5 separate regions of the Homo sapiens genome follow, and regions 1, 2, 3 and 4 are each linked to region 5. The links come from fine-mapping of genetic effects on gene expression. A gene starts in region 5. Each other region holds a variant in brackets. All regions are shown on one strand. Distances are from middle to middle.

Region 1 (5,108 bases), 40 kb before region 5:
GAGTATTTGAAGTGATGACGAGCACTCCAGGAACAATGAAAAGGAGAAGAAAAATCAGTGCGATAAATCAGGAGGCCAAAATAAATGCAGACCACTCCCCCGACGACAACCAGTTATTAAGCAAGAAAGCTACCACTAAAATGAAATTCATGGCTTGGTGTCATTATAAATACACACTAAAGAGGGCTTCAGGTACTGCACCACCCAACACTGCAGAAAACACTAAAATACTTCCATAGCAACTATCACTAAGGACATCATTAGGATGCTGAAAATGTAAAAGAGGAAAAAAGAGCCAATAAATGGGGACAAACAAGATTATTTCCCTGGTAGAGTAAAGCCCATTGTTCACTCTCAGAAGACATAAATATTTAACCACCCAAGGCAAGCTATAACCAGCTATTTCAGCTAGCCAAACCCATCTTCCTGATATATAGTGTTTTCAAAAAATAAATCAACCAAGGAGTTGAAACCCAAGGAACTCACAAATACATGTACCAGGCTGGTGGCAGCACGCTCTAGTCTGAAGGATTGATCATGAGTCAGGAGGGGAGGGTGCAAGCCTCAGCCCGGTCACTTAGTACCTATCAAACCTATTATGGGACATGTAGGTATTGTCAGGGACACAAAAGTGAATCAGAAACAGGTTTTGTCCTTGGGCTGTTCAGTGTTGTAGGGGGAGATAAAAGATAGATTACTATAAAATAAGCTAGATGTGATAGATGTCAAAAGAGAAATAAGATTGCTGCTATTCAATTTTAAAATCTTATTGCAGGGTGTTGTGGGTGGAATTGCACCCCCCAAGAAGGTATTTTGAAATCCCAACTCTCAGGATCCCAGAATGTGACTTCATTTGGAAACAGGGCCTTTGCAGATATAATCAAGTTAAATGAGGTTACTAGAGTGGGCCTCAATCCACTGTGACTGATGGCCTTATAAGGGAAGAGAATGCCACGTGGAAACAAAGACACACAGGGAGAAGATGACTGTGCAACATCAGAAGCAGAGATTTGAGTGAAGCGGCTCTAAGCCAGGGAACACCAAGGATTGCCAAGAGCCACCAGAAGCTGGGAAGGGGCAAGGAAGGACTCTCCCTACAGCCTTCAGAGAGAGGATGGCTCTATCAATGTCTTGATTTCAAACTTCCAGCCTCCAGAACTGTGAGAGAATAAATTTTTGTTGTTTTAAGCCAATTCTTGGTATATTATAACCATAGCCCTAAGAAGCAAATACAGAGGCAAAGAGTAACCTCATCCTACTGGGATTAGGGCCAGGTTTCTGGTAAGAAATGACACATAAATTGAACTTTGAAGAACTTATACTATCTAAATGGTAGGAAATGTGGTTTCCTATTTACGTGATAATAGTATTCATCAACCATTGAGAATCCACTTTGTGTCAGATATTGTACTAGGAGTCATTCATATATAAATGGATTGGACTCTGGCTCATATACAGAAGTCATCTAGACCTCACCTCCCTCCTTGACCATCCCACTTCCATCCCACAGTGGTTGATAAGTATAAAATGTTTAGTTTAGCAAATAGAAGAGGAAGATGGGTTTGGGGGTTGGGAGAGCTGTGGAGGGGAGAGGGGAAAAGGGCAAAGCATCTGTTCCCTTTCTGACCTCCTTCTAGAAAGACGGTGGAAGCAGGTTGCAGAACCTCTGTGAGTTGTTTTGTTTACATGTGAAATTAGCTGAGGAAATAGTCAAAGAGACTCTCAGAGGCTCTAGGCACAAGCCCAGCTATTTGGGGCTGAGCCAGGGAAGGACATTCTCCTCTCTGCACCACAGAGGCCAAATGGAGGCTTCCCAAGGACCAGACTCTTTGGGAACACTAAGAGGCAACACCCTTGGCATGTGCTGTGTTCTCATGATGGACAGTGACCCTGGAAAAGTTTCAGCCTCGGCAAAGCCTCAGCAAGTGGCCCTGCAAGCAGAAGCTGGACATGTGGGAGCTGGGGCAGAAGCAAAATAACAGGGCAGAAGACGATGGCAACTGTGAAAGAACGACTGGTGAGCAAGGGAACTTCTTTGGAAACTTCTAGAAATAACTGGAAATACTTTGAAGGGGGTTCATTTCTTTCAGTCGAGTAGGAAGGGGATTTACGCCATAAATAATCGGTATGTAAAAAAAAAGACAACTGGCAGATGAGGCCTGGAACACATGGGTCAGGCACGGATTTCTAATATATCCAACTGAAATTCATCATTATCCCCTTTCCACTTTACCAGCAAGAAAACGGAAGCTCAGGAGGTTAAATAACTTTCCCAGCCAGTAACTCTGTAAGTGACTGAATCAGAAATAAAACCATGTCTGTCTGCCAGTAAGTCCAGTATTCTTTCTACTATACCACACTG[C/T]TGATCTGGGCAACAGTGGGGAAAATATGACACTTGAAAGGAGCTTGGAAAAGAACACAGTAGGTCAGGATACTAGCCAGGGTTCTGGCAGAAAACAGAACTCAAGCCAAATTGTTCAAATGAAGGGACTTTAACAAAGATACTGCTGACATAGCTGTGGGCAGAATTAAGGGAATTAGCAAGGGATGTTGAGACACCCAGAGACCAGCAATAGAAGGAAACCACTCCTAGAGAGAGACCTGGTGAGAGCTGGTGAGACCTGGAGCCACGGAAGACAGACCACCAGCAGGATCTATAATGGTGGAGGGAGCCTTCCAGAGAGGTGGCTCCAAAGCAGGGAGGGAATGGGGAAAAATAACCCAACCTTTCCTTTTATCTCCCAGTCTCCTGCTGCTGCCACCCATTGGCTGTGCCCCCACCTGGAAACCAGCTATCAAGGGAGCCTGGGGCAATAAGTGGCAGGAATTAGAGACTCCTGGAAACAGAAGAGGAGGAAGACATTGCCATGGAGAGCAGAGAAGTTGAGGCCATGTGCTAGTCTTGTCCTGTTTTGCTCTTAGATTTATCCCCTGTCCCCGCTCTACCCTGTTCCGTATCACAGAGAATTACTTTTTCCTTGTTCCTTTGCCCTCTGGTTTCTGGGTCAGTTCAGCCATTGGATGGCCCTGAAGAGAGAGCAGAAAGGGAGAAGCTGGGTATTTTTCCCCACTTCTCTCAGCTTCAAGTATTGTCTCTGGCAGCGGCCATCTCTTCTATGGACCCAGCTCTTGCTCCAAGAGCTTCTGTGGTTCCAACTTCTCCCTGGTGGCCTGGCTCCTTTTGTCCCTTAAGCTTTAGGCAGTGGTAGCAGCTTCCTGCTCTTGATAATCTCAAGGATGCCTTACTCTCCCACTTTAGGCTTCTTACCTTTGTCATCTCCTGGTATTAAATCTCTTCTTTAAAATATCAAGAATATTTAGAATCCTGACTGATAGAGGAAACTATCACATGGGAGAGCCTCAACCTTCACAGAAAAGCATGAGGGAAATGAAAATACACATGGCTTGCATATCATAAATATGGAAAAACTTCCATTGAATCTGTCACTGCTGTGTGCCTATTCCCTCCTCTCACTGGGGCCTCCAATCCCTCAACCACCAGTGTTCTGGTCCACTTTTTAGCCTGGCTTGCCCTTCATACCCCTGGAGATCATGAACAGTCATATCCGCAATATTCTGTTAGAATTCTTGATTTTCCTGCTGACTTTTCCTTCTGCTGTAGCTATTTTATCAATCCCTATCCCTGAGTACAGTAAATTATCTATTTTCTCTCCTCCTGCTTTTTTTACTGGACAAAGGAACATGACCTGGCCAAAATTTCTTCTCCTGGGATGTTTGTCTGCCCGGCTACTTATATCCATTGTACCCATTTCCAACAACCATGCACCCATGGCTTTGCCCAGAGTCCCTGGAATCTTTTCAGGTTCATGTAAACTTAAAATTTATGCAAAGGAAATCCACCAAGGATTGGAGACCAAAAAACAAACGTATGACATCATGCTATAATTTCACACACACAGAATTATTTTAAAAATAGAATGGGTTCATAAAAATGAAATAAATTGCTGATATGTAAAACTCATCATAGAAAAATCAATGTTATTAAAATGGTTATTCATAAAATAATTCACCACATTTTTCACTTTAGAATACCAAACCCCCACCATGCATTTGGAATTTAATTCAATTTACAAAGTTTCCATTTGCCCACAACTCTTCAGGACCACATGCCTTTTCCAAGTCAAATATATTTCAAGGTCCAATATCAATGGTTTAGATATACATTAAGACATGTCAGACAGAGATTCTGTCTGCTCCACTATATGCTTTTGTTTTTGGACCTGGGATGCAGTTTAATCTACTTCTTAAATGCAAAGATGTGGTAGATTGCGTTATTGGTTTTGATTCTTTCCTATACTATATCTTTGCCCTTCACCATTGGCTTTGGAGTCCCTCTCATGTTGAAGGTTAGATTTCATAGAGTAATTATTGAGGAATGCTCTTGGAAACAGCCATTTTAAGGGAATAGGGGAAGCAAGATTGACACAGAAAAAAATGGGACTAATTTAATTGCAACCCAGGCCTCACCCAATCCTATGGGAAGCTCTGATGCTAGGATAGCTCTTCAGAGATGTCTTGAATTGAGGCAAGAGGTCAGACTTCATACTCACATCTGACTAGTCTTTGAATGTGGGTTGACCATAGGGGCACCCTTGGGCAAAGCAGTGCCCTTCAGCTGAGGACAATTCCTGGTGGGCAGTGGGATGGGGACTCCAGGGCGAGGGTGGAGGTGAAAGGATGGGAGTCAGTGGACTTGGTGAGCCATCATCAGCAAGCAATATTCCTAGCAGCTGAGAAAGTAAGTGCCTTGGTTCTGGAAAGGGACCAGGAAGTGCACCTCAGCATCCACTACACCCCACAAAGGTGAAGTATATCTCAGTTGGGCACAGTGGTGCACATTTGTAGTCCCAGCAATGCAGGATGATCCCTTGAGCCCAGGCATTTGAGTACAACCTAATCAACAGGCATACCCTTATCTCTTAAAAAAAAATGAGGTATGTCTCTTTGCTCTTTGACATTAGTCTCAGCCTTGTAACTTGCCTTGACGAACAGGATGAGGCAGAAATTAGTGTGCCAGTTCCAAGCCTAGGCCTTAAGAGACCTTGCATATTTCCAATTTTCTTCTTACACATGTCCAGGGCAACCTA
Region 2 (5,108 bases), 24 kb after region 5:
TCTAAAAAAATTCTTTTTTTTTTTTTTTTTTTTTTGAGACAGAGTCTCACTCTGTCACCCAAGCTGGAGTGCGATGGCATGGTCTCAGCTCATTGCAACCTCCTCCTCCAGGGTTCAAGTGATTCTCCTGCCTCAGCCTCCCAAGTAGCTGGGACTACAGGTGCCCACCACCACACCCAGCTAATTTTTGTATTTTTAGTAGAGACAAGGTTTCACTATGTTGGCCAGGCTTGTTTTGAACTCCTGACCTCGTGATCCGCCCACCTCAGCCTCCCAAAGTGCTGGGATTACAGGCATGAGCCACCGCACCCGGCCAAGACATTCTTTACAGATCCTTTTCCTTTCCAACCCCCATCTCATATTAAAAAAAAAAAAAAAAATTCTTGAAGTGCTTGAGGGAGTTCAGAGTTGTGCAGCAGGATCAGCCATTTGCTTTCTAAATTCTGCAAATAATGATCTGTCTCATAAATCTTGGAATCTTGTATTTGTTACATGCTTTATTGGTACCTCAGTCAAAGTTTTTTTTTAAAAAAGGGTGGAGGGTAAGGGGTCATCTTTTGAGCTTTTTAAACTAAATATTAGAAAGGGCTTTCCGGTCATTAGGATTTTTCCAAACATAAAAGAACCATGATGAATCACAGTTTGACAAAGTATTTTATCTGTCTAGATGGAAGATGATATTCAGTTAGGGGAAATGGAAACAAGTGGTTGTCCAACATTTGTCAGAATTATTATAACCATAAAAGTAATCCATAAAAAGTAATCCAGTTGATTTTTTTTCCATTTTAGTAATATTTTTAGGTTAAATCAGACAAGGTGGTGCAGCATTTGATATAAAGGCTTGGTATCAGGTGAACCGTCCTGCTTTGGAGATTTGTGTACCATTCTTTCTATAGATTGTAATTTATCTTCTTAGGACTTATTTTTGCGATCTTATTTCAGATTTTTTATTTCCTGCAGTTCTTGTTTTTTCATTTTGTTCTTTATACTGCAGAAATCCATTTTTCTCCTGTGGTTTAATAGTCATACATTCTCTTATTCTTAAGGTGATTGCCTTTAACTTAAGGCATTTACTGTCTTAGTTTAAGCCTCTGTGTGCCTTCCCACTGCGCCACATGGGTGGGGCTCGTTTATTTGGGACATGATCCCAGGAAGTAGAGTGAAAGACTAGGGAGAATGAGGCAAGGAAGGGAGAAAAACCAGTAAAGCGTTCTAAGTATCACTGTGGGCCACTGGGGCTCAGTCTCCCTGAGGAACCATGAAGAGAGGCCTCAGGAGCCCACCAAAGGGAGGCTGAGGTGTTCATTCCACCCCCCCGCCACCCAGAGGCATCACTTCCCCCTTGGGGGATGCATCAGAACAGCCCCCAGCAGAACAGCAGAGCCCCCTGCAGCATAGGCAGGAGCAACTGGCACAGGAACTGTTCTCCACAGCTGCGCTGAAGCCCGGTTGAGGGGACATGCATGCAGCCACAGGCCTCTGCTGCAGGGTTTGTTTATTTACCTCCCTGATTATGTAAACATCTTCCCTTTCTTCACACAAGCACTTTGGCACATTCCCACATTTCTCTGGTCTGTACCCATTCTGTCCCCTGCTAAATAATCTTGGGGTTGTTATGGACATACTTTCTTTTGGTCTTTGATTTTTTAAATAATGTTGAGCTTTTCTTAATCATTCTTACTGCCCGTATCTCTGGCATTATCTGTTTGGGGTTTTTTTTCCATCATATATGCTTCCTCTAAGAGGTTTTTTTGGTTAAGTGTCTGAGACCTTGAACACTTGGAAATACCCTATTGTGCCCTCAAATTTAAATGACAGCTGGACATAAAGCTGTAGGCTTAAAGGTAATTCATTGAGTTTTATGATAAAGAACAAATTTTTTTTTTTTTTTTAGACAGAGTCTCACCCTTTTGCCCATGCTGGAGTGCGGTGGCACAATCACAGCTCACTGCAGCCTCAACCTTCCAGGCTCAAGCAATCCTCCCACCTCAGTCACCTGAGTAGCTGGG[A/G]CTACAGGTGTGTGCCACCACGCCTGGCTGATTTTTGTATTTTTTGTAGAGATGGGGTTTTGCCATGTTGCCCAGGCTGGTCTTGCAGTGGCGCGATCTCGGCTCACTGCAAGCTCCACCTCCCGGGTTCATGCCATTCTCCTGCCTCAGCCTCCCAAGTAGCTGGGACTACAGGCACCCGCCACCACACCCAGCTAATTTTTTGTATTTTTAGTAGAGACGGGGTTTCACCGTGTTAGCCAGGATGGTCTCGATCTCCTGACCTCATGATCCACAGTTTCTTAAAATATGATTACATAATTTTTTTTATTTGTAGTTGAGGTAAATATTACAGCTCAAGTAAATATAAGTTTATTTATCGGTATACTAATGTGATCTCTTCAGTTTTATTTTCCCTTAAATTCTGAGAAGGTCTCAGGGTGTCTTTGTCTCTCTCTTTCTGTATTTTGCATTATTCATTTATTATTTGGATTAAAACCTGTTTTTAGGCCAGGCACAGTCACTCACACCTGTAATCCCAGCACTTTGGGAGGCTGAGGCAGGCAGATTGCTGGAGCCCAGGAGTTTGAGACCAGCCTGGGCAACATTGGGAGACCCATCTCTACAAAACAAACAAACAAAAACAAAACAAAACAAAACAAAAAAACAAAGAATTAGCTGTGCATGATGGCAGGCTCCTCCTGTAAGTCCCAGTTACTCAGGAGGCTGAGGTGGGAGGATTGATTGAGTCCAGGAGGTCGAGGCTGCAGCGAGCCATGATCATGCCACTGCACTCCAGTTTGGGCAACAGAGTGAGACCTTGTCTCAAGAAAACCAGAAAACAAAAAACCTGTTTTTAGGGTAGGGAAGATTTTCCAAATGAACCTTCTGTTTTTACAGTAATAGCAAACTGCTGTTTTCTTTCTGTGGTCTTTTGCTTTCTACAGTATTCCCCCAGTGATATATAGATATACAGACTAGTTTTGGCTCTAGAGTGTCTTAGATAGCCCAGACATATCTTGAGTCTTAGTAGAAAACTCTTATACCAGAGGGATGTGTAAGGAAGGAGTAATGGTAAGAAAACATGCCTTGATTTCAGGAAATCCTCTTGACCCCCAGGATGATTTTCTCTTGTTGCTTACATGCCTGCTTTTATCACCATGCTACCTGAATCAATAGCTAATAATTTATAAAACTGCTTCTTCTAAGAGGTTTCTGCTTATTTTAGTCTTTGATATTATCAGCCTAAAATGACAGTTGATGGTTAAAATATTGTCAATGGATACAATATGGGTGGGTAAAATTATGCAGTTAAACAGGGTAAAACTAAGTTTCCCCCAACCCCTCTATTATATATATATATACTCTTGGCATTGGCTTTCAAATTATGTTCCTTAGGATCACTGGTATTCTACTGAAATAAAATAATACAATTTATTTAAAAAGTGAATAGAATGAACAAATTATGATTTTTTTCTCATAAATTTTTCTTAAATCTGCGCTGAAAGAAATTAAGCAAATGACATTTTTCTTAAATCTACGCTGAAAGAAATTAAGAAGCAAATTAACAAGAAGAATTTGGCAACAGCCTGTAATTTTAGTTTACCATTCTCTCTAGCTTTTATAATGGAATTAAATCAGTATTTTATGGTATTCCAAAAAGAATGTGTATGCTTTTGAGGTACTTTGACAGTTGAACACATTTGAGAACCACTGTTTTTGGTAAAAATGAAAATAGAATTTATATGTTGAAAAGTAAAGAAGAGTAGTGCAAAGATGAATTCAACATAAATAGAGTTTATATGTTGAAAAGTAAAGAAGAGTAGTACAAAGATGAGTTCAACATTTATTTACATAAAAGTTGTTTTGAATGGATAAAAGTTGCCCCCATTCTTCATGAGATTGTTTTCTTAATGTAAATGTAATATGTTAATGTAAATACCTTGATTGATTGATTGATTGATTGTGAACTTACAGGAGCCCAGGCTTGTGTGCTCGTGTTCTCTACCACAGATAGGGAATCTTTTGAAGCAGTTTCCAGTTGGAGAGAGAAAGTAGTAGCCGAAGTGGGAGATATACCAACTGTACTTGTGCAAAACAAGATTGATCTTCTGGATGATTCTTGTATAAAGAAGTAAGATGGCTACTTTTGGGGAAGGAGGGACAGTAATTCTATAAAGTTAAGACATCTTAATTTTTGCATAGTTTTACAGGTTCTAGGAAAAATTCTATACTTTCATTTTGAAGGCTTTAATGACTTAAATATTTTAATTTACCTAAAATTTCTGTGAGCTATTCTATGTGATTGGTTTGGGTTAAAAAATTCATTGATTCCTAAGTAGATAAAATTAAAGGATTAAAATTTGAAGGCTCTTTTAGAATTCTAATCTCAGGTCTTTGCACAAGAAATCTAATTCTTCATGTTAAGTCAAACCTTAATATGGTAAGAATGTTAAGAAAAGCATCCCTAGATTTTGTAATACCCAGAATAAGTAACTATCCTATGTTGATGAATTTTAATTAAGGGTTCAGATTCATATTGTTTTGTATATTCAGAACTCTTATGCTCAAATTTGTGAACAGATAATTTCTGTTCATAAATATTTACTTATTGTATTATTATTTTTGCCAGTTTTGAAAATATTTGCTTGGTTTTTACCTGTTTTTTAAGTCTTCTTATGTTAGTTATCTGTTGCTATGTAACAAATTAGCCCAAAACTTAGTGTCTTAAAACAACAAACATCTATTATATCACAGTTTCTGTAGATCAGGAGTTTGAGAATGGCTTAGCTGGTGGTTTTTCATGAAGCTGCAGTTGAGATGTTGGCTAGGCCTGTTCTCACGGAAAGGCTACACTGGTGCTGGACCATCCATTTCTATGATGGCTTATTCACTTGGCAGGAAGCCTTAGTTCCTTGTCAGATGGGCCTCTCCTATTCTCACAACACGGCAGCTATTTCTCCCAGAGTGGGTGATCCAAGAAAGAGCAAGACAGAAGCCACAGTGTTTCTTATGACCCAGTCTTATACTGTCCCTTGTATTGCATATTAGTGGACACCCAGACCAACCTTGATTACAGTGTGGGAGGAGACTACACAAGGGGCTGAAGACCAGAAGCCA
Region 3 (5,108 bases), 240 kb after region 5:
TATGCTTATAAGTTGTAACATTCAAGCTGTGTTGAGACAAAAGGATTTTCTGAAACTACCAAACTGGCATATATATATGTATATATATATCCAAATCTGGAAAATTGGAGTACAGAGTGGAATTTATAAGGATACAAACCTAGAAGTTTGTTGTTTAAAATTTTAAAGAATTAACCTGAGAGTAGAAGAAGCAAAGGTATAACATAAAGAAAGCCTCTACTGCCCAGTAAAAGAAAAGACATTCTGGTGCATGGAGGAGGAGCCTGGGCAATAAGAACTTGATTAGCATGAAATCTGATTTAAATGTCTTTGCTCTTCTTGCCCCTGCCCTTTAGGGGGAAAGGGGATGAATCTCCAGGTGGGGGTATATGATAGAGACATACAGATAAATGGGGGCAATCCCAGAACAGCAGGCTGGCTCCTTGCTTAGTGCATTCTTCCCTAAAGAGTCCTCATGTTCAGCATCAGGGCAACATGGTGTCTCTCCGGGCCACAGATTGGAAATGGCCAAATTGGTGTCCAGATAAATGGGTCAGAGACAACATCCAGATTTCCCAGAGCTCATGCAAAACAGCTGGAGAATCCAAATGTGCTTGTATCCTAGTTAGGGAATAGGTAAGTTCTGGAGGAACTAATGAAATATAAACAGCTGGCTGGGCACAGTGGCTCACGACTGTAATCCCAGTACTTTGGGAGGCGGAGGTGGGCAGATCAGTTGAGGTCAGGAGTTCAAGACCAGCCTGGCCAATATGGTGAAACCTCGTCTCTACTAAAAATACAAAAAAATTAGCCAGGCGTGGTGGCTCATGCCTGTAATCCCAGCTACTTGGGAGGCTGAGGCACGAGAATTGTTTGAAAACCCAGGAGGTGGAGGTTGAAGTGAGCAGAGATTGTGCCACTGCACTCCAGCCTGGGTGATACAGCAAGAGTCTGTCTCAAAAAAAAAAAAAAAAAAAAGAAAAGAAACACAAACAGCTTAATATCTAGACAGAGAGGCCACAAGGTGCCAGAACATTATAGAAGATGGCAGTGTGTGCCAGGATGGCAAATTTCAGCAGCAGCTACCAATAGAATCCCCAATGGACCTGTAAGGATTGGCTCAACAGTAACACCAAGGGACACCCTGAAACAAGGCAGGGAAGTTAAAACCTCAGTAAAAGATCAGATATCTTTCCCCAGAGGCTGAGTGCAAGACTTCGAAAAACTTGGTTCACTTCCCAAGAAAAGAAGGTGGAGGAGGGGAAGAATTTAGAATTCATTGAGGCTTAAATCCTGAAGTGACTTAAATAATAATAACTCAAAAAGACTGTTTTACACTAGAAAATGAATAAACAAGTTTAAGCTTTTTATTGTCTTATCAATCAAGCATAGAGACTTGAAAGCCAGATGAGATCAGTTATAGAAAACACAACTACATTTTTATATGATTTGCAGCATTTACATTCAACCTTTATTTTATTTTGTTTATTTATTTATTATTATTATTATTTTCTGGAAACAGGTCTTGCTCTTTTGCCCGGGCTGGAGTGCAGTGACACAATTTTAGCTCACTGCAGCCTCGAACTCCTGGGCTCAAGCAGTCCTCCCGCCTTAGCCTCCCGAGTAGCTGGGTTTATAGGTGCGAGTCACCATACCTGGCCCTCACCTTTATTTTATAAATGTACAGATATATGTATATGTTTGTATATTTCATTGTTATATATGTGTTTGTATATATATACATATGTAATACATCTTCTAGTGATGAAAATTACTAATATCAGAAGTAGGCAGATAGCTATACCCACGTTAAATGTATAAATCTTAAAGAAAAAATTATGTATTGATTAAATAGAAATAAGAAATTTTTAAAAACTGAAGATAGCCTATTGATACCATAATTCTGTTAGTAGTAATTAGTATCTATGGTCTAGTTCTTGTTAGCAAGTTTTAGCAAGTTGCTACAAGAGGGAAAGGACATCAGGCAAAAGAAATCCATTTGTAAGCATCAGTGGAAGGAAATGAAGTTAACAGACACATATTAGATTGGGAGAATATATTTGTAATATCTCAAACCATAAGAGACTAATTTCTACAATAGATAAGGTATTAGTGCAAATCAATAAGAATTGACAGAACAGGAAATCCATCAGAATAACCAAGAAAACGAACAGAAAACAAAAACCTAATAGAAAAATGGACAGTGCAGAGACTGCTAGCTATCTCCAGGTGTCTATTCTACCATTCTTGTATAGTACAATAAAGGTTTTA[G/T]CTGGGCTCATAGTTGTCAGCTAAAGGCTTCATTTCCCTGACTCCCACGTGGCTCAGTGTGACTATATGACTAAGTTCCCTCCAATAGGATATGAGCAGGAGTATTTTGGACCACTGACTTGTTGATAACCTTAAAAGAACAAGCATGCCTTCTTCTGCCTGTATTCTCCTTCTTCTATTAGCAGATGGGAAGGCATGATGGGAGAGTGAGGGGAGGGCAGTCATCTTAGACCTAGAGATAGAGGCTGTGTGTTGAGGAAGGTAGATCAACAAGGTAAGAGGGACACTCAACATGTGGAGCTGCCATAGCACCCCTAAACTGCTCTTACTATTAGGTAAGAGGGAAATAAACTTCATCCTGTATAAGCCATTATTGTGTTACTTGAGTCTATTTTACAGCCTTTGCAACTTATATCATAACTAGTCCAAAATTGAGTACCCAGAAGTACGAATACCTAAAACCTGAAATATAATTGAATTACTGAGAGGTCAGGTGGTAGCGCACAGGCATGGCATGCTGGATAGCCATTGATTCTTGTTAGACCTTGGGGCATATTTGGTACAACAGTCACCTGGAATACCTTTGAAGGCAGACCACAAACTTATTGAGCTTGGAAAAACAATGCTGGTATGTATCAGCTACTCCTTGTCAGTGCTGGTCAGTGTGCAAGCAGACATGGAAGGCTCTCTGAGTGCAGCATGCAATTTAAATTAACTGAGAGTCCAGTAATATTCAATCTTCAAGTTTTGAAAAAGCCAATTACTTTTATATCTAAATAGCAGAAGGTAAGACTGTATCCTCAAGGCTTTCTCGAGAGCTTTTCTTTAAGTGTTCTTGACAGATAATGGGATCCAGCCCAGTGGTAAGCTTCAGATGCAGGGTGTTTCCTTCAAGCTTTTTGTTTTGTATATTGTTTAGATAACTGTCATAAATTGGAGAGAAAAGAGGCTGAACACAGATGCCGTAATTGAAGAGAACAGTTTTCATGCTTACAATCCATGATCAAATAAAATCTCTGGCTATAGTGAATTTCAATGGAACAAAAAAGAAATTGTGGTTTAGAAAGCTATTAAGTTCTTGCTAAAGAAGCCACAATACCGGCCTACAAGAGCATGTGACTGTTTTTACCTCTTAAGCAATCCTTGAGTTTCCCTAAACCTGCATCAGCAGATTAAAACAATGAGATATCATTTTCTCCCATCAATTTGCAAAAACTAGAAATTTGGATATTAATGCTAACGGTTGTAGGGAAGTACAAATATGGGAACCTCTTAAACACTGATGCTGGGCACGTACACTGATGTGAACACTCTCGAAAAGTAATTTTATAATATCTAGTCAAATGAACTAGAAATAAACATATAACTTACAAGGTATAAATCACCCTCCTATGTATTTTTCCCAGATAAATTGTCACACAGTTTTTTTTTCTTTTTTCTTTGCTTTTTTTTTTGTTGTTGAGACAAGGTCTGGCTCTGTCACCCAGTCTGAAGTGCAGTGATGGGAACACAGCTCACTGCAGCCTGAAACTCCTAGACTGAAGCGATCCTCCCACCTCAACCTCCCAAGTAGCTAGGACTACAGGTGTAAGCAGTTGCACCCGATTAATTTTAAATTTTTTTTGGTAGAGAGAGGGTCTCCCTGTGTTGCCCAGGCTGGTCACAAACTCCTGGGCTCAAGTGATCCTCCTGCCTCAGCCTTCCAAAGTGCTGGGATTATAGGTGTAAGCCACTGCATCTGGCCTCACAAAGTTTCTTAAAAGGACATGTATAAGGATATTTACTTTGTCATTGTTTGTGGTAGCAAGATGCTGGAGGCAATCTAGGTATTCATCACTGAGGAAAGGATAAATAAAACACGGTGCTATGCAGCAGCTAGAAGCAATGGATCAGATGTATATATAGCAATATAGATAGGTATTAAAAACAGTGCTAATTGTGTGGAAACAAGCAAAGTGTCCATAAATGAATGGATGGATTAAAAAACAGTAGAATTAATATATTTATAAATGGAATATCATTGAGCCCTAAAAAAGAACAAGATCTTGCTATTTGCCACAATGTAGATGAGGCTGGAGGATGTTATGTTAGGTGAAGTAAACCAGACGCAGAAAGAAAATTATTGCATGATCTCACTTACATCTGGAATCTAAAAAAAACTTTCAAATATTCAGAGATACAGAACAAAACAGTGGTTACTAGGGCAGATGGGGCTTAGAGGAGAGAAAATGAGGAGATGTAAGTCAGAGGATATGAAGTAGCAGATACACAGAACAAAGAGGTTTAGAGATCTAACGTAGCACACGAGGACCATAGGTAATAAAATTGTTTTGTGTTTGGGATTCATGCAACATGTGTAGATTTTATCTGCTCTTGCAACAAAAATTTTAAAAATGGGTAACTGTGAGTGATGGATATGTTAATTTGCTTCACTATAGTAACCTTCTTACTATCTATATGTTTCCTATAACGTGATGTTATATACCTGAAATATACACAATAAAATTTATTTTAAAAAAACAGTGCTGATTGAAAATCAGAAACAGATTAAGGTCTATATTTTAATACCACTGTACTATCAAATGATGTACACATAAGGTGGTACAGTGTTGTGTGGTTTGTATTAAATAGTAAGAAAAGGATTAGAAACAACTGATATTTATCATAGGAAACCAGTTAAATAAAGGATGGTGAATACACACAGTGCAATAACATGGAGCTGTAAAAAATACAAAGCTCTCTGTATAATAATGGAAATACCTTCAAAATATATTAAGTAAAAAAGAAAAGTATAAAGCAATATATATGGTTAGTTTTGTGCCAAAGACAGGGATAAGAATGTATATTCATATTTGATT
Region 4 (5,108 bases), 140 kb after region 5:
ACAGCAAGGGGGAAATCCGCCCCCATGATCCAATCACCTCCCACCAGGCCCCTCCCCCAATATTGGGGATTACAATTCCACATGGAATTTGGGTGAGGACACAAATCCAAACCATATCACATGTCAAGCCATCAAGAAAAGCATCCCTGAAAGAGAAAACCTACTTAAACAGGAATAGTAATTTATTTTTTTTCTGGGCAGCTGGACTATGTGTTTACAAGAAAATCCAGGCTGGGGGTGGTGGTTCACACTTATAATCCCAGCACTTTGGGAGGCAGGAGGAATGCTTGAGCCCAGGGGTTCAAGACCAGCCTAGGTAACATAGTGAGACCCTGTCTCTGCAAAAAAATTTAAAATTAGCCAGGTGTGGTGGTACATGTGTGTGGTCCCAACTGCTCAGGAGGCTGGAGTGGGAGGATCACTTGAGCCCAAGAGGTCAAGGCTTCAGTGAACCTAATCTCACCACCGCACTACAACCTGGGTAACAAAGCAAGACCCTGTCTCAAAAAAAGAAAATAAAAAGAAAATCCTGGGCCGGGCGTGGTGGCTCATGCCTGTAATTGCAGCACTCTGGGAGGCCAAGGTGGGCGGATCACCATGTCAGGAGACTGAGACCATCCTGGCTAACACGGTGAAACCCCGTCTCTACTAAAAATACAAAGAATTAGCCGGGCGTGGTGGCGGGTGCCTGTAGTCCCAGCTACTTGGGAGGCTGAGGCAGGAGAATGGCATGAACCTGGGAGGCAGTTGAAGTGAGCTGAGACTGCGCCACTGCACTCCAACCTAGGCAACAGAGCGAGACTCTGTCTCAAAAAAAAAGAAAAAAAGAAAATCCTTTGAAGCCCACCAAGAGATTTGAGACATGCTTGTAGTCCCCAAAAGACAGGTTTATTTAGCTTGGTGTAGCCAAAGAGAAGAAAAGCCATAGGCAAAATTTAGGAATCTCCCAGTCTTAGAAAGTTAAGAAGGAATTGGGTTGGGTGATTTTCAGCCAATCTTGGGAAGTGAGGAACTGGTTAGAATTGGAAGAAGCAGCATTGTTTACTGACTGGTTCAAGGTTCAAAATGGAGAATTTAAACTATGGGGAAATGTTCTTTGTGTGATTGAGGAATTTTTTTGCTGTTGTTTTACCTGAGCTGTGAATCCATTATTTTGCCTTATAAGTTAAGATCTTGAAGAGGGCCCATCATTGCGTTGACAACCCCCCTAAATTTAATACTTTTAGACTTTTTCCCAAATGACATCATAATAGATTTCTAGATCTGTATCAGTGACATTATGTTGATATTCTTCCTTCAACTCATTATCATTATGTATCAAAGAAGTCTAGTTTTGTTTTCAAAACTAAAATTTTTCATCAGATCTCCATCGACTGTCTTACTGCTTGTATTGAATGGTAATTTATAGAACCATCTATCTGAACATTGGCTGCTAACAGCATTTAAGACTCTAGAGACTGTGTTCTTGGCCAAGGGTGTGCCACCAAGAGGCAAATTAAATGCATCAGTTTGGAAGCCCTGTTTAGAAACATTATCTGATACTCATAAATTTCAAAAAAGGGAAAGTATCAGTGTTGATATTTTCATCCTGACTACCGTGAGCCTCTAATTTATTTAAGGAACATTCAACATGGACAGAAGAGTTCATGTATACACAGCACAAAATTTTATTAAGGTTTAGTAAAGCACAGATACTTCCAATGCAATTCTATTATTAAGAACTATATTTAGTTTGGATTAAATGCTCTGGTTTTAAGATGTGGAACTGGGCCGGGTGCAGTGGTTCATGCCTGTAATCCCAGCACTTAGGGAGGCCACCGTGGGCAGATCACAAGGTCAGGAGATTGAGACCATCCTGGCTAACACGGTGAAACCCCGTCTCTACTAAAAATACAAAAACAAGGAATTAGCCGGGCGTGATGGCAGGTGCCTGTACTGAGAGGCTGAGGCCTGTAGTGAGGCTGAGGCCTGTAGAGAGAGGCTGAGGCGGGAGAATGGCATGAACCTGGGAGGCGAAGCTTGCAGTGAGCCGAGATCGTGCCGCTGCACTCCAGCCTGAGCGACAGAGCGAGACTCCCTCTCAAAAAAAAAA[G/AG]ATGTGGAACTGGAATATTCTCATTAACAATTTCTGATGAAGTAGGAAATAGATTTGTAGGCATTTTAAAATAGAATATTCTTCAGGGAAGAAAATGGCTCTTAGCAACCTGGTGTCATAGTCATTGCCTGGAGTTATGGGAGCAAAATAAAGAGCATTTGATTCTGAAAAAGTATAAAGGACTAGCCCATAAGAAAAAGCAGCCTGTTGCAGCACAGGACAAAAGACGGTGGCTCATTTCTGTCACTGGCTCATAAGCACAAGCTGCTTGACTCATTTAGAGGAAGCTATCATAATTTATTTAGAATATGGACATTCTCCCTTTCAAGCAAAATGCATTTGCCTTATGAGTACACTGATGACAGTAGTTTTTGGTGTTATTACTAAACATTGTGAGTAATTTCCTACACATCCTATTTTCTTTCTAGAAAGATTTGGAGAATCACCGTTCAGTTCAGTGTATTTGGATCATATTAATAGTATTATTCCATGTCAGGCCACTGAACAAAACTACTGATGGTTCAATCACTTGTGGTGATTAAAAAGGGGTTTGAAAACACCACAGACAACCAAAAATATTAGAACCAGATTGTATTCATTAAAGGAATTGGTCTGTAGTGCGGTAGGTAGGTATAATTGTAACAATCTTATTAGAAGGTTATATCGTCTAACCTCTTTTACAATAATCTACATGTTAAAATCATTGTCAAAATTGATTTATTTAAGAGCAACTGAGGAGGAATTTAAGACAGGTATAACTAACATTTGTTACTTCCTACAAGCTAAAGGAGAGTGAAAAATCCTAAGCAGAAGCAAGACATCTCGGTATGATTTCACACCTATAGAAAAATTGAAAGAATAATATTTGTTTTACCATATTCTCTGTCTGAGACATATGTTTACATATTATTTTTTCTGAATCATTGGCAAGTAGGTTGCATGTATCATGCCTCCTTATCCCTTAATATTTCAGTATATATTTCCTAAGAACCAGAATTTTCTTTGACATTAATAGTACCATTATCAAAATCTGGAAGTTAATGTTGATAAAATACTTTTTTTTTTTTTTGAGACGGAGTCTCGCACTGTTGCCCAGGCTAGAGTGCAATGGCATGATCTTGGCTCACTGCAACCTCTGCCTCCCAGGTTCAAGCGGTTCTCCTGCCTCAGCCCCGAGTAGCTGGGATTACCGGCGTCCGCCACCACGCCCACCTAATTTTTTGTATTTTTAGCAGAGATGGGGTTTCACTATTTTGGCCAGGCTGGTCTCAAACTCCTGACCTCATGATCCGCCCGCCTCGGACTCCCAAAGTGCTGGGATTACAGGCGTGAGCCACCGCGCCCGGCCACGATAAAATACTTTTTTAAAAATCTACAGTCCTTATCACATTTTGTCAATTGTCCAAATTCAATATCCAGTCTAGGATCACATAATGCATTCAGATGTTATGTCCCTTTATTCTTTAATTTAGAATTGTTTTTCAGCCATTGTCTTTATGATATTGATGTTTTTGAAGAACCGAGGCCACTTATTTTATAATATGTTCCTTAATTTTGGTTTGTCAGATGTTTCTTCATGATTAGACGCAGGTTAGACCAGACAAAATACTATCAGTGACATTATAAGTGTTTTTGATTATTACATGTAGAGACACATGATGGCTCTCTGCCCCTCATTGAGGATATTAATTATAGCCAACTGGTCAAGGTGTCATCTAGTATGACCACTATGTAGTTGCTATTTTTCCCCTTACAACTAGTAAGCAATCTGTGAGGATATACTTTCAGGCCATGCAAACATCATGTTCCTCATGAAACTTTTCCCTTCAATATATCATGTGATGATTTTTGCCTGTTATCAGTTTTTACTATGATGGCTGCAAGTGGTAATTGTCCGATACTAGTTTTCTCAATGATTTCAACTGGCATTTTTCTGTAAGAAAGTCTTACCTTCTCCATTTTTAAAATTTATTAAATATGAATTCATTAATTTCCTTTTTAATTTTTTATTACATCATTTAACAGCATTTGTACACAGTGTGCAGATATACAGGGTAACATCAATAGCCTTCATTGCACATACCTAGTAATCATTTTGCAGATATCAATGGTTCAGAATATCAGAGATAATTAACAACTTTTCTTGTGGGTCCAATTTTTCCACCATGAGACCTATAATACTTGTTTTAGATGTAGTTTTGCCATGCTGTATATTTATGTTCTGATTCTTTTCTTTTTCTTAAAAGAAGTTTCCTTTTGTGATAATTTTAGATTCATATGTAGTTATAAGAAATAATAGTACTTCTGGCTGGGCATGGTGGCTCACGCCTGTAATCCCAGCTACTCGGGAGGCTGAGACAGGAGAAATGCTTGAACCCGGGAGGTGGAGGTTGCAGTGAGCCGAGATCGTGCCACTGCACTCCAGCCTGGGCAACAGAGCATGACTGTGTCTCCAAAAAGAAAGAATAGTACTTCTGGCTTGACAGTATGAGGAGCTCCACTGGCCTGCTCTCATATGAAACTGATAAAAAATATTTTTAAAAATCACTTAAAGCCTATGGAGACAGTCCTAAGGGCCAACAGCAAATGAAGAAACATATATCAAAGGAAATCTGAAAATTCTGTAAGAAAGGAAAGCATCTGTGGTATATAAACCAAGACCACTTGCTCCCACCCCCTTCCCAGCTCAGCAAGACAGACTTCACTCCAGACTGCTATAATCAAGAACACAGGCTCCCTCTCCAACTTATCCCCCTTCCTCAACTTCCACTTGGAGGGCCCCCTTCCTGTAAAGAGCAAGACATCACTGTTTCTCATCCTGTCCTCAGCTACCTATTGTTGAAGCTAAGCACTGGGCTAGTGCAGTTGAGAGGCAGGGGCTCTCCTCTTCCATTGGGACAGAGGCTCTACCTTGAACTCATCACATTGAGAATACTGGGCCCCTTAGCACCCTTGCTCAATCTGGAAAGGTGATGGTTCCATGCCTTACCAGGAGAGGCAAGACAAGAGGACCTCA
Region 5 (5,108 bases):
ATTGCCTTCAACTCCAAATAATGCTTGTGTCAAAGTGGCATGTTTTGGGGTGGCATATTCTGGATCTCCTTCAATGTCCAACAATCCCAAGGAAATGGAAAAGTGGGGAGGAAAGAAATGATTTTGGGGGAACCCCCTTTCAGGAAGTTTTTCTCAAATTTGGATCCCAGAAGTACTCCCTGAGACCCTCTAAGATTTTCTTTTTTTTTTTTCCCATTAAAAAGAAATTTGGCAAGATATACATAAAACATAAAATTTACCATTTTTAGCCATTTTTAAGTATAAAGTTCAAGAGCATCAAGTTTATTCACATCGTTGTGCAACCATCACCACCATCTATCTCCAGACTTTCTTCATCTTGCAAAGCTAGAACTGTAGACATAAAACAGTAACTCCCCATTCCCACCTGCCCTTCCTTTCCCACAACCACTTCCCACCCCCCAACTGTCTCTATGAATTTGACTACTCTATGTACCTTATATAAGTTGAATCATACAGCATTTGTCCTTTTGCGACTAGGCATAATGTCTTCAAGCTTCATCCATGCTATAACATGTGTCAGAATTTCCCTCTCTCTCTTTTATTTTTGAGACAGGATTTGCCCAGGCTGGTCTTGAACTCCTGGATTCAAGTGATCCTCCCATCTCAGCCTCCTAAGTAGCTGGGATTACAGGGATACCTCGCCACACCTGGGTCCCTCCTTTTTTAAGGCTGAATAATATTTTATTGCATGTATATACTACATTTTGTTCATCCATTCATCCATTGATGGACATTTGGGTTGCTTCCACCCTTTGGCTATTGTGAATAATGCTGCTATAAACATGGTTGTACAAATTTTTTTTTGAGTCCCTGTTTTCAATTCTTTTGAATATATACTCAGAAGTGGAATTATTTAATCATACGATAATTCTATTTTTAATGTTCTGATGAACCATACAATTTTCCATAGTGGCCGTACCATTTTACATTCCCACCAGCAGCACACAAAGGTTATAATTTTTCCACATCCTTGCCAACACTCATATTTATTTTCTGTTCTGCTTTGTTTATAATCATCATTTTAATGAGTGTGAAGTTGTATCTCATGGTTTTGAGTTGCATTTCCCTCATGATTAGTGACCTTGAGTCTCTTTTCATGTGCTCATCGGCCATTTGTATACCTTCTTTGGAGAAATGTCTATTCAAGTCATTTGCCAACTTTTTAATTGTTTTTTTTCTTTTCTCAGAAAGGGCATCAGTACGTTACTCAAGTTTAAGAGATACTGCCAACCAAATCCTAGAGATAAATCTGTTAGCTACTTGATATTAAATTTCTTACAAATACTATTGCTATTATAGGTAAAATAATCTCCACTAATTTTTAAAATTATTAAGTGTGAATTATAATTCACATACAGAAAAATGTGCATAAGAGTACAGCTTGAATTTTCACAAATGGACACGCATTTATAACTAGCGCCAAAATCAACGGAGAGAACCTCACTAGAAGGAAGCCCCTCTTCCAGTTGCTAACTGGAAGCCCCTCTTCTAGTCGCTAACTCCTTCCAGTCACTATCCCCTGCCCACCAAGGTAACCATTATGCTAACTTTGAGCCTCTTAGTTCTTCTGTTTTTGTAGTTTATAGAAATGGACTTATGCCATGTGTACTTTTGTTGTCTTTTTATGCTGGGCATTAGGTTTCCCCAGTTGATTCACGTTATTGCCTGTAATTGCAGATGCTTTTTTGCGTTGCTGTATAGTGTTTCATTATATGAACTCTGTGTAATTTCATTAATTTATTCTATTGTTGATGGTCTTTTGGGTTATTCTCATTAAGGAATTATTACAATAAATGCAGCTACGAACATTCTGATACCTGCCTGTCCGTGCACCCTAAGTATTCGTTTCTCTTTGCTCTATATGCAGGCGTGGAACTGCGGGGCCATAGGGTATGCACCTTTTGCAGACAGTCCCAAACTGTTTTTCAAAGGAGTTGTTCCAGTTTACATTCCAGCAGCAAAGTAGAAGAATGCAGTTACTCTACATCCTGGCCAACACTTGGTATTTTCCATCTTTTTTTTCTATTCTATTTTATTTTGAAATATAAAAACAACTGAAGCAAAGTTGAGATTGCTTTTGCGGAACCTTTTCGTTTTTGGTTCGCTTCTCTGAATAATTAACCATCTCAGGCTTCTATTTTGTCCTGCAGGCTGTGTGAGTGCGTTTTCGACTTTGCTCGACATTTTTTTGCTCACTTGGCCACTTAAGATGTCATCTGGTCAAGAAAATAAGGTAGGTGTCCGAAGCGGGGCAAGCCCTTTGAGGACACTGGAAGTGTGATAACTCTGTAGGCGAAACTCATGCGGACCGTCATTGGCCGATTTCTCTTTTCTAGAGTTCACGATCTAGGAGATCCTGCTCGTCTCTGATCTCCCCACTGCCCTCCCGGGCTCCCTTGGAGGCGCCTGGAAAGCTGAGCCGCCGCCAGCCACCCGCCAGAACAGGGGCGGGGCAGGGCCGCGGGTCCGCACAGAGCATGCGCAGACGAAGCACGGCGCATGCTCCGCAGCGCGGCGGGTCCACAGATGAGGGGAGTCGAGACTCCCGCGCCCCACCACCCCCGGCGGAGCTGCTGCTGAGCCACTCAATCTGAGCCCTGGCTACTAATAAAGTTCGTTTAAAAATCATAATCATTCTTAAGAGAGCGAAAGAGGGTGCGAACTAGCCGCTCGGCCCCGCAGGGAGAGCTGGCGCGTCGGGAGGAGACAGCGGCGGCAGCGGTTGCGCCGCGACCAGGAGGAGCCGGTGGCGCCGGGCGGCGGGTCCGCGGCCGGTGGGGGACGGTGAGTAGCGGCTCGCGCTGCGGTGCAGCGGCGCTGCACTCACTCGCCCTCTCCAGGGGCTGGGGGTTCGTCCGGCTCCACTGGGGAAGACTCAGCTTCTCCCCGGGGTCCCGGGTTGTGCCTTACTCTCCGGAGTGGGCAGGGGTATCGAGGGCAGGGGCCTCCCGGCCCGGCTCCCCCATCCCCCGGTTCGGACCGCCGAGCGCCGGCTCTCCCCTCCCTGAGCACCGATCCCAAGTTCCAGCTAGAGAAGGTGGGCGGCAGCGCCAGCCCGGCGCCCCCTCCCAGCTCCCAGCGGTGGGTACCTGGAATTGCCTGGTGGGCGGGAAAGAGGGGTGGAGCGAGGGCGGCGCTGCGTCCCCAGTCTGGCCGAACGTTCGGCTTTTTGCCTGCCCCAAGTCCCGACTGGGGAAGGGGCGACCCGGGCTGGGCCAGACACCAGTAAGGGCGTGAAGTGCTCAGGTTAGGTTTGATGGCGAAGAGAGTCCTCAGCTCCACCCTGGCATTTAGACTCCTCCCTGCAGTGCGACCACTCTTTACCCGCGACCCCACCCTTCCCTAGTTTCTTGTTCATAGAGTGCTGGAATATGAATGAGCCAAATTGTGCTGTTCCATTGACACTGGTTGCTACAGAATTAACTTTACTCGGAGATCCGAGGAGCCATCGGCAGTTCCCAGGAGTAAGAACCTGAGAGCGTGTGAGAGTAAGAACTTCATTATCAGGAGCTAGTGAAGTGGCAGTAGGGTCTGAAAAGGGCTGTTAACTTCTCTAGGTTTTTATGTATCTCCTAACATCTAGGTAATTTCATTGACCCTAAGAAGTTTTTCAGTATTTTTACAAATATAACCTGTACTTCTACTTAAATAAAGGCTGTTATGAGAAAACAACCTTTTGATTAGTGAGTTAACTCACCCTTTGCTTCTCTAATTTATTAGACCGCATTAGCAAAATGTTAAAAGTTTTGGGGAAAGGGTATTTATATAAAGTATTATTGTCGAGGTTTTTAATTGTACTCAGAAGTATGCTTATTTCTAGGAACGTAATTGTTTTGATCTAGTGCTTTAAGTCTATAGTTTCTGAAAAGCAAGAGTCCGACTGCCTGTTAAAATTTAATTTGGCTTTTTTCTTTAAATTTATTTTAAGGAAATTAATTTATTATTTTAAAAAGTGTATGGTAAAATTGATTTTTTTTCGATGTACAGTTCTGCGAATTTTAGACTCATGTAACCACCACTACAGTAAGGATGTAGAACAAATCTATCGCTCCCCCGCCACAGAAAAAAAACCTAATGTGATCCCATTATATCATACTCCTTACCCCTGGCAATTACTAATCTTTTCTAGAAATGAAATCATAACAGTTAGTAATCTTTCGATGTTAGCTTTTTTTCACTCAGCATAATGCCTTTAAGATTTCTCCAAGTTGTTTCATGTATGGATAATTTCTTTTTTTATTGCTGAGTACTATTTTATTATGTGGATATGCCACAGTCTGTTTCAACATCTGCCCATGGAAGGACATTGAGGTTGTTTTCAGTTTTCTGTGATTATGAATCAATCTGCTATAAATACCATGTACAGGTTTTTGCATGGACATGTTTTCATTTCTCTAGGGTATTGCTAGGAGTGGATTGCAGGGTCATATGGTAAATGTATGTTTAACTTTTAAAAAACTGTTAAACTGTTTTCTGGAGTATCTGTGTCATTTTGCATTCCCACAAGCAACATGTGAGAGTTCTAGTTGCTCCACATACTCCCAGCATTTGATAGTGTCAGTTTTTTTAAATTTAGCCATTCTAATAGGTGTGTAGTGGTATCTCCTTGTGGTTTTAATGTGCCTTTAACTAATGGCTAAAGATGTACATGTTTTCATGTGTTCATTTGCCACATGGAGTCGTTGGTGAGGTATCTGGCAAAGTCTCTTGCCCATTTTTAAATTGGGCTGTTTTCTTATGTTGAGTTTTGAAGGCTCTTTATATGTTTTGGATACAAATTATATGTTAGATACGTGTTTTTCAGGTATTTTCTTCCAGTCTGTCTTTCTCTTCATTCTAACAGTGTCTTTCAGACAGCAATGTTTTTAATTTTGGTGAAGTCCAGTATCAGTTTTTCCTTTTATGGGTCATCTGGTGTCATGTCTAAAAACTCTGCCTAACAGGTCAAGATTTTCTCCTTCTAAAAATTGTTTTATAAAAGTGTTCCATTTAGATCTGTGATCCATTTGAGTTAATTGTATAAGGTGTGAAGGTTTACTTTTTTGCATATGGATGTCCAGTTGTTC

Direction of the effects. Alleles are on the strand shown, and positions count from the first base shown. SD is a standard deviation of normalised expression in the study named. Not every link is listed here.
As copies of G replace AG in region 4, the expression in lymphoblastoid cells after a statin of the gene that starts at base 2,542 in region 5 goes down (moderate effect, 0.66 SD a copy in CAP).

The links. PIP is the estimated chance that this variant, and not a neighbour inherited with it, causes the effect.
Region 1: its variant is fine-mapped to the expression of RAB23 in aorta (GTEx, PIP 0.99).
Region 2: its variant is fine-mapped to the expression of RAB23 in blood mononuclear cells (TOPMed, PIP above 0.99).
Region 3: its variant is fine-mapped to the expression of RAB23 in whole blood (TOPMed, PIP above 0.99).
Region 4: its variant is fine-mapped to the expression of RAB23 in lymphoblastoid cells after a statin (CAP, PIP 0.91).

The regions. Positions count from the first base shown.
Region 1 is chr6:57,259,355-57,264,462 of GRCh38, reverse strand. LINC03001 (long intergenic non-protein coding RNA 3001) reads left to right here and starts at 1,117. Exons shown (of 3, transcript NR_109774.1): 1 at 1,117-1,160; 2 at 1,796-2,017; 3 at 2,746-3,939. It also overlaps a transcript of PRIM2 not described here. The variant C/T (reference allele first, on the strand shown) is at 2,363.
Region 2 is chr6:57,195,464-57,200,571 of GRCh38, reverse strand. It overlaps RAB23 (RAB23, member RAS oncogene family), which reads left to right. Exons shown (of 7, transcript NM_016277.5): 4 at 3,966-4,122. Among named protein-coding and RNA genes, the nearest start is that of RAB23, 24 kb to the left of the region's middle. The variant A/G (reference allele first, on the strand shown) is at 2,010.
Region 3 is chr6:56,982,823-56,987,930 of GRCh38, reverse strand. The region is part of intron 2 of BEND6 (BEN domain containing 6); the gene reads right to left. Among named protein-coding and RNA genes, the nearest start is that of BEND6, 30 kb to the right of the region's middle. The variant G/T (reference allele first, on the strand shown) is at 2,251.
Region 4 is chr6:57,082,933-57,088,040 of GRCh38, reverse strand. No RefSeq gene overlaps it. Among named protein-coding and RNA genes, the nearest start is that of ZNF451, 4.7 kb to the left of the region's middle. The variant G/AG (reference allele first, on the strand shown) is at 2,093.
Region 5 is chr6:57,219,741-57,224,848 of GRCh38, reverse strand. RAB23 (RAB23, member RAS oncogene family) reads left to right here and starts at 2,542. Exons shown (of 7, transcript NM_016277.5): 1 at 2,542-3,123. It also overlaps a transcript of PRIM2 not described here. RefSeq lists a silencer at 2,839-3,188.